Homo sapiens: one gene and its partner. Each later gene encodes a partner of the first gene's protein in a complex. Each region holds a gene or a part of one and is shown in the gene's direction. Other genes may lie near its edges.

The links. The genes of interacting proteins can lie anywhere in the genome.
Region 2: the proteins of CDC42 (region 1) and IQGAP2 are in contact, whole or in part, in a crystal structure (PDB 5CJP), measured with the Homo sapiens proteins. Residues at the interface, in NP_001034891.1 of Homo sapiens: Gly12, Ala13, Ile21, Thr25, Asn26, Lys27, Phe28, Pro29, Ser30, Glu31, Tyr32, Val33, Pro34, Val36, Phe37, Asp38, Tyr40, Phe56, Tyr64, Leu70, Gln74, Gln116, Leu119, Asp122, Pro123, Ser124, Thr125, Glu127, Lys128, Lys131; in NP_006624.3 of Homo sapiens: Gln893, Thr894, Asn924, Tyr925, Ser927, Asn928, Gln929, Arg930, Glu931, Glu932, Arg976, Gly977, Asn979, Gln983, Asp1067, Leu1068, Leu1069, Pro1070, Tyr1071, Lys1191, Phe1192, Asn1193, Lys1196, Tyr1197, Leu1200, Val1201, Thr1202, Val1203, Ser1204, Lys1205.

What each region holds. Positions count from the first base shown.
Region 1 is NC_000001.11:22,080,209-22,083,708, forward strand, and holds part of CDC42 (cell division control protein 42 homolog isoform 1 precursor), read left to right. Parts: intron 1-1,513; coding exon 1,514-1,586; intron 1,587-3,500. UniProt on the Homo sapiens protein: Plasma membrane-associated small GTPase which cycles between an active GTP-bound and an inactive GDP-bound state. In active state binds to a variety of effector proteins to regulate cellular responses. Involved in epithelial cell polarization processes.
Region 2 is NC_000005.10:76,401,826-76,406,084, forward strand, and holds the start of IQGAP2 (ras GTPase-activating-like protein IQGAP2), read left to right. Parts: upstream 1-1,459; 5' UTR 1,460-1,720; coding exon 1,721-1,766; intron 1,767-2,498; exon of another isoform or gene 2,499-2,550; coding exon of another isoform or gene 2,551-2,671; exon of another isoform or gene 2,672-2,706; intron 2,707-4,259. UniProt on the Homo sapiens protein: Binds to activated CDC42 and RAC1 but does not seem to stimulate their GTPase activity. Associates with calmodulin.

The sequences.
Region 1 (3,500 bases):
ATTACACTAGCATAAGTAGACTTTGGAATGGAAGCCAGCTTTTCTGATTCTTAGTCTAGTTTTGGATATGAACAATCTAGTAAAGGAGGGTTGTTTTTGAGTCTCTTAAGTGTGATTTAAGAAAATAATCTGTTTGGTTTGAGAGCTTAACCACATTCATTCAATTTCTTTGTTCCTGTTTTTAAGAACCGACTTTCCTTTAACTGTCATCTCCCTCATGCCCTTGCTTCTCTTCTTTACATTTAAATAAGCTCTGGAACAATCTGTTAAAACATAAGTCAGAAAATCAGAGTAGGTACCTAAAAGTTAAGTAGGGCTGGTCTTAAAATGTGGCATTCTTCTCCTAGTTGGAAAGCTTTGCTTTTCTTTTTATAGATATCATTTAATTTTAAAATTTTTACTGTAAATTGACAGATTATAGTTGTATATGAAAGCATTGCTTTTCAATTGTAAATTAATTCTAAAGACTCCAGAATTTGTGTTGGGTCTTTTCCCATTTAGCATTGTTAAACCTCCCATTTTCACAAATAACTTCGTACAACCGATATTAGCATATGCTTTACTGAATTTGATAAGGGTTTTATGGTCTATTTACATATTAAGCATCTTGTTAAAGAAGATGTCTTAGATCATGCAGTTTGTGCCCAATAACATGAATTTTACTCATAAAATTCCCAGCTGGCTGGGTGCAGTGGCTCACACCTGTAATTCCAGGACTTTGGGAGGCCGAGGCAGGTGGATCATGAGGTCAGGAGTTTGAGACCAGCCTGGCCAACATAGTGAAACTCTGTCTCTACTAAAAATACAAAAATTAGCTGGGTGTGGTGGCATGCACCTGTAGTCCCAGCTACTCAGGAGGCTGAGGTGGGAGAATCGCTTGATCCCAGGAGGCAGAGGTTGCAGTGAGCCGAGACCATGCCATTGCACTCCAGCCTGGATGACGCAGTGAGACTCTGTCTCAAAAAAAAACTTCCCAGCAAATAATCTGCCAGCTTTTTCTTGGACACTTTGAGTACTTTGAGGGAACCGTTATTTCTCTCAAATGGGCTTGTTTATAACAAGGCTCATCTTTTCTAGGACTCTGAAAGGAAGAAAGGTCATGGATCTAGGATATTTTATTTCTAGATGAAAAGGAAATGGTCTATGAAGAAGTAGTTTCTTAGGAATCAGATTGAATGTTGAGGTAGACCACTGTCTGAAAAGTTTCAAACTTGAACAGGTTCATTTTGTGTAGCTAGAGGACTCTGCTCCTGTGACACCTCTAAACCTTCTCTGGCTCTTTATCCAGGCTGCTGGGGTAGAGCAGAAATCTCAGAACACATCCTTTGTCTTTTTCCAGGAATCATTTAGCTCATGCAAGGACTGGTTGGCAAGATTGGTTATATAAGGATGATGGATGGACTAGGGGACGATTAAGTCTTAGCAAGGAAACACTGCCTTAGCTTAAGAGTTGTCCTGTCCCATTTTAACTCTCTCCTTGCACACTAACAGTGTTGTATTTTTTTGTTTTTAGGTTTTTGACAACTATGCAGTCACAGTTATGATTGGTGGAGAACCATATACTCTTGGACTTTTTGATACTGCAGGTGAAAACTTAATGTCTTTTATACTGTTTTGATCTTTAACAGTTGCTAGTTGTCTGTCTCTTGTGGACATTTTGAGAAACTAGCACATGAGCAAAGTACTTGCCTTTTGTTATTAGTTAGCAGGATTGAATATAATGATTGTCGATGCTTGACCAAGGAGCAGTCCCAGACCTGGGTCGGCAAATAGGAGTTTGGAGTACCCTGGGTGAACAGTGTAGTAGATGAAGTAGAGTGAGACTAGAGTGCATCATACAAGCTCCAAATTGAACTAAAATCCTGATGCGTGCACCTTGCAGAGAACTGGGGACTGCATTAGTGGTTGGGGAGGGACTAAGGGAATGAATTCATAGGAATCATGCCCACTGATTCTCTCCCTTCACCCCTACCTGCTCCTTTTTAAAGCCTAGAGTTTCCTAAATATGCCTAAGGTTATAAGGTCATAAGCCATTTACAGTATTTATTATTATTACTCTCTTGATATTTGAAGGCATATTCAATTTATGTGTCTAATAACATGTTTAGTTTCTTACGATAGATAGCTTATTTTAAACTGTATCTGAAAATATTTTGAGAGTGAACTATTATCTGCTCACAGTATTGACATTTGTCAGCTATCCAAATTGTAAGAACAAATTACTTTCTTCCTTAAATGTACCTAATTCCTCAGTGCTATTTCTTGTTTTCAAGAGTGGCTGCACATCTTAATTTCTGACTTTTCTCTATGTGCCGTCTTATTATCAGCTCAGTTAGCCAGAGGAAAATCTCAGAAAGATATCCTTTAGAGTATCTTTAGAATGTAGGAATTCTAAACTTTGTGCTTTGAGTTACTGTTACTGTTTGCAAGTTAACATGTTGCTTCCATGGAATGTGGTGTTACACTGTGTACCACGAGGAACTATTTGGATTTAATTGAGAACGTGAAATGGAGAGACAGTAAAGATTAGAGAAATTTTTAATACATTAAAATCATAAAAGTAATGGTATATTAAATTTGGAATATAGAGAAAACAATGACCCATAATGTCATGATAAATGAGGGGTTTTCTTCTGTGTTCATTTGTGTCCAAAGGCACAGAGAAAATTTTTATTTTTTTTTTTTGTTGAGATGGAGTTTTGCTGTTGTTGCCCAGGCTGGAGTGCAATGGTGCAATCTCGGCTCACCGCAACCTCCGCCTCCCAGGTTCAAGCGATTCTTCTGCCTCAGCCTTCTGAGTAGCTGGGATTACAGGCATGCGCCACCATACCCGGCTAATTTTTTTGTATTTTAGTAGAGGTAGGGTTTCTCCATGTTGGTCAGGCTGGTCTCGAACTTCTGACCTCAGGTGATCCGCCCGCCTTGGCCTCCCAAAGTGCTGGGATTACAGGTGTGAACCACTGCGCCTGGCGAGAAAAGATAATTTATGGCTACTTGTGGTTGAAAATTAGTATTTTCAGATTTCAAAGTTTATTATTTATAAGCCTTTACATTTTCTGGCGAGTACTTTTGAAAGCTTTTTTGATGCGTAGTGCAATAAAAATCATTTTAAGGCCAGGCGCGGTGGCTCACGCCTGTAATTGCAGCACTTTGGGAGGCTGAGACAGGCAGTTCACCTGAGGTCAGGAGTTTGAGACCAGCCTGGCCAGTATGGTGAAACCCCATCTCTACTAAAAATACAAAAATTAGCCCAGTGTAGTGGTGTATGCCTGTTAAGTCCCAGCTACTTGGGAGGCTGAGACAGGAAAATTGCTTGAACCCAGGGGGCGGAGGTTGCAGTGAGCCGAGATTCTGCCACTGCCCTCCAGCCTGGCTGACAGAGTGAGACTCCGTCTTTAAAAAAAAAAAAATCGTTTTAAGTGTTCAGTGTGATGCATTTTGCTGACCCTCCACCATAATAAAATGTGTAACATTTTTATCACCCCTCAAATTTTCTGTGG
Region 2 (4,259 bases), on another chromosome or scaffold:
CCTAAGCACGCTCTGCAGTGTCAGCATCACCTGGCAGTATGCTAGAAATTAGAAATGCAAATTCATGAGCACCAGCCCAGACCCATTGAGTCGGAAATTCTGAGGGTGGGGCCCAAGAATGTGAGTTTCAACAAGTTTGAGAAGGACTGCGTCTCCTATATGAAATGGAAAACAGCTGCTCATCCTCTGTATCCTTGCATAATAAAAAATGATTAGTGTCACTATGCCACCATTTCCTCAGCGAAATAATTTCCATCCCCCCACCGCCTCCGAGGGTCTTGCACTCTCACCCAGGCTGGAGTGCACTGGTGCAATCACAACCCACAGCAGCCTTGTCCTCTCGGGCTCAAGCAATCCTCCCACCTCAGCTTCCTGAGTAGCTTGGGACTGCAGGCGCAACCACCACGCCCGGCTAATACGGCTAATATTATTTTTTCATTTTTTGGAGAGACGGGGTCTCGCTATGTTGCCCAGGCTGGTCTGGAACTCTTGGGCTCAAGGGATCCTTGTGCCTCGGCTTCACAAAGTGCTGGGATTACAGGCGTGAGCCGCCGCGCCCGGCTCTAAATAATTTCTTATCGCCCTCCCTCAGTTTGTTTTTCCTGTTATCGGGTCACCCACACATTCCACAATTGTCAAATAGGTGAGGGCACAGGTACGGAAGCGTCCCGCATTCCCTCCAGATTTTATCACGCTGAGACACAAAGAGAAAAATAGCTCCTGGCGACCGCATGAAAACCCCGATTTCAAAACAGCCACATGCAGTTTAATTTCCTTAAAAGCTTAGCCGGAAAAGGTTTCTGTGGCTTGCGACCCCAGCTGGGCTTGAGAGAAGGCTCTGCACACTGGGGCGGGGGCGGGCACAAGGTGATCGGAGGGAGGGGGATGACTCGCAGTTGTGTTTTGAGTGGTTGCCTTGGGTTATCTTGTTCCTCCAGCACACACACACTCAGTTTCTTGTCATAAGGGGAACCCTGTTATTTTGTAGACAAAAAGTGACAGAAGCAACTTTCGAAGCAAAAAAAAAAAAAAAACAAAAAAAAACAAAACCAAAAAGACGAAGAAGAAGAACAAAAGTCAACGTGAAATCTCCCCAGAGGAAAAGGAACCGCGCTGTTTGTCCCTCAGTAACTGAGCAACACCCCGGACACGAAGGGCTCCCTGTGACTTCTGCGGTTTTTCTTGCACTTCTCCGCGTTGGTTCACTTCCACCCTCGAAACTCTCCAGAAGCGAGAAATAAGGCGGGGTGGCCGCCACCCCCAGGCCACCAGCTGTGCGGGGGCCCCAGCTGCAGGGGGTCCCGGCCCAGCGTCCCTCTCGGCCCCTTCCCTCTCCCCCGGGGGAGAAGGGGCGGGTCCACGCGGCCTGGGCGCTGCGCCCGACACGCGGTAGGGGTCGCTGCGTCTCGGCGCGCGCTCCCACCGCGGTGAATAACGGGGCCTGGCTGGAGGAGAAAGGAAACCTGCTGCGGGAGGCGGCGGCGACCGGCCAGGGAGCGAGGGAGGAGAGTTCACTTTTACTTCAGTGTCAGCGCGCGGCGGCCGTGGCTGGCTCTGGCGAGAGAGCACCGAGGGAGTGGGTCGCAGATCTTCGGGCGGCTAGGGGAAATCGGCGAGAGGCGGGATCCGAGCGCGCCGGCGGGGCGCAGAGCCCGCGAGCCTGGCCAGCGAGGGTAGCCGCGGGGGGCGCGCCCCGGGCGGGCCCCCGGAGACGCGCAGGATGCCACACGAAGAGCTGCCGTCGCTGCAGAGACCCCGCTATGGCTGTAAGTGCGCCGGGCGCGCGGGGTTCCTGCTGGCCTTGGGGAGCTCCCTCCCCGAGGACGGCGTTGGAGAAGCCGAGGGAGCCGGTTGCGCGGCGCAGAGGAAATTGGAAGGCAGCAACTGCGCGGCTGGCAAAGTTGGGAGCTGGAGTTGCAAAGGGCAGTGAATCGCGTCCCCCCGCTCCTCCCGCCCCCCAATTCCTAATATCCAGCTGGCAACCCAGACCCTCCACTCCGCATACCCAAACGGGGTGCGCGGGCAGTGCGGGGATTGCGCTCTGGGACAGACCAGGTTGGGATTTTAGGGGTATCAGGTGAGGAGTCCGCGGAGCTCCGGGTCGCCGCCGGCTTGGGCCAGGGGGTGGCGTAAGGCACCGGATTCTTCCAACCCAGAAGGGGAGGAAAGTTTGTTTGCTGTGGCTACAGGTGGGCACCGCAAGTAGGGCGCCGGCGCACTCTGCTAGTGCAAAGCCGGCTTGACTGGAAGGGCGGGAGTCTCCTCCTGTCCCGCGCCCTCGAACTTCACCTGACCCGCTAGAGCCATTGGCCTCACAGGTGTAAGTCCCTCCCCTCTGAAACCCCCCAACCCCTTTCCCCCCCGCTCCCCTCGCGCGGGAGGATTGCTGTGTGGAGAGGACGCGGCACTAGGCTCCGGGGAATCCGGCGGGAGCCCGCGTGACTTGAACGAGATGGTGTCGATTACCCAGCCAGGGGCTGCCCTCGGAAATAGGTTGCTTTGGCCGATCGTGAGTGGATGGAGCCAGATTAACACCAACCACGTGGCTTCATGTGCAGAGTTCAGAGTCCTAAACATGTGCCAGGAAGCATTTCCTTTAAAACAAACAGAAAGTTGGCCTGCTGTCTCTCCAAGGTGGCCCTGTCAGTGAACCCAAGGCCGAAGACCACAGGTTAATCTTTGCCCAGGCTGGCCTTGGTGGCAGAGGTACCAGGTTTGGGTTAAGGTGGTGATACCTTCAGCAGGGTGTTTTGTTTGTGTGTGTGTGTGGTTTTGGATGGTGCGTAAGGCCACTGACTTGCTTAACTGAAAAAGGGCTCCTCAACTTGTGTAGGTTCTTTCCCCTCCTCCCCGCTGGCGTGTCAAAGATGGGAGGTTATCTTTCCTGTGTTACCCTTGCAGTGAGGGGGAGGCCTGAGGACTACAGCCTCTGTACTCTAATGCATTCAGCAGTTGACTGAGACCCAGCTTTTTGCCTTTTGGTAAACCACACAGACAGCAGAGCCTCTTGGGTTCAAGAGGGAACGCTGTGCTCATTCAGTGTTTGCAGTGCCAACCTCAGGTGGGACCCAGCTTTTTGCCTTTTGGTAAACCACAGATACAGCAGAGCCCGTTGGGTTCAAGGAGGAATGCTGTGCTCATTCAGTGTTTGCAGTGCCAACCTCAGGTTGGTGGAAGTACTTTAATGTGACCAGCTCTCAGAATATATGGTGGCTTCACTGTGTCAAATGATAAGATAACCACAAACTTCTGCAAACTAGGTGAATCTACATGAACAAATGATTTCTTGCTATCACATGATTGATGTCGGCCCTCATGAGCAATAAATAGTGCAAAATTTCCGTGAATGTGGTACATGAATGCAGCATTTCTGTCAGTCCCTGCATGTGCATCTGTGATGCTGCTTGATTTTCACGGAATAAATCTGTGTTTTAAGTGCACTCCAGAAGAAGCTATCAAGGGAGTCCAGATCTGGCAAGCCTGAAGCCCACTCCACAGGGCCGCTTTCTTTGGAAATCTTCATCCAGCTTTCTTCACCAATGTGGTGTAAGGGGGTGGTGTGCCATCTTGTTGGAATCACTCCCGGTTACTTTCCCTCCACTCATCAAGTGCTGGCATTCAAGTTGGTCACTTAACACTGTCAAAATGGAAAATATTTGCCTATGTTTCCAGACTTTCTTGTCACCCTGAAATATTAAGGCTTTAATATGACAGTTATCTCATTAAAATGAACACTTTTATAATTTTGGTTTATGAATGGTGTATTTTCAGTGTATTCAGAACATGATATCTAGCAGAATAGATTTTGGCGTTAATAGGCATTACCTAACATTACCTATTCATGCAGAAGAGGGCTATTTGGTGTGTTAGTGTAATTTCTGGTTGTTGTTGGCTTTCTGAGCCTCCTATCAACATGAGACTGAAAATCGTGCTGTGAGCTCTTCATGGGAAGGCTAGGGAAGGATAACACAGGATTGTCCTTGCTCTGTTGTGTTCTAGGGCTGTGCTTTTTCTTGTTTATTGGTTTGGTAAATACAGTTTCAGTAAAACCTCAAATTATAAGAAACAGGTGTTACCCCTAGCATTTAAAAATAAAGTAGCAATACATTGTAATTTCAGTTCTAGTGCTGAACGTTCTGAGTATAAGATGTTTGAGACTGGGCTTTAAACACAACTTTTTGGTAGTTTGAATTAAGTTGTCTATTGCTTATTTTGGGTCTGAGCTTCTGTTCTGCTCTCTCTCCTACCCACTTGACTCC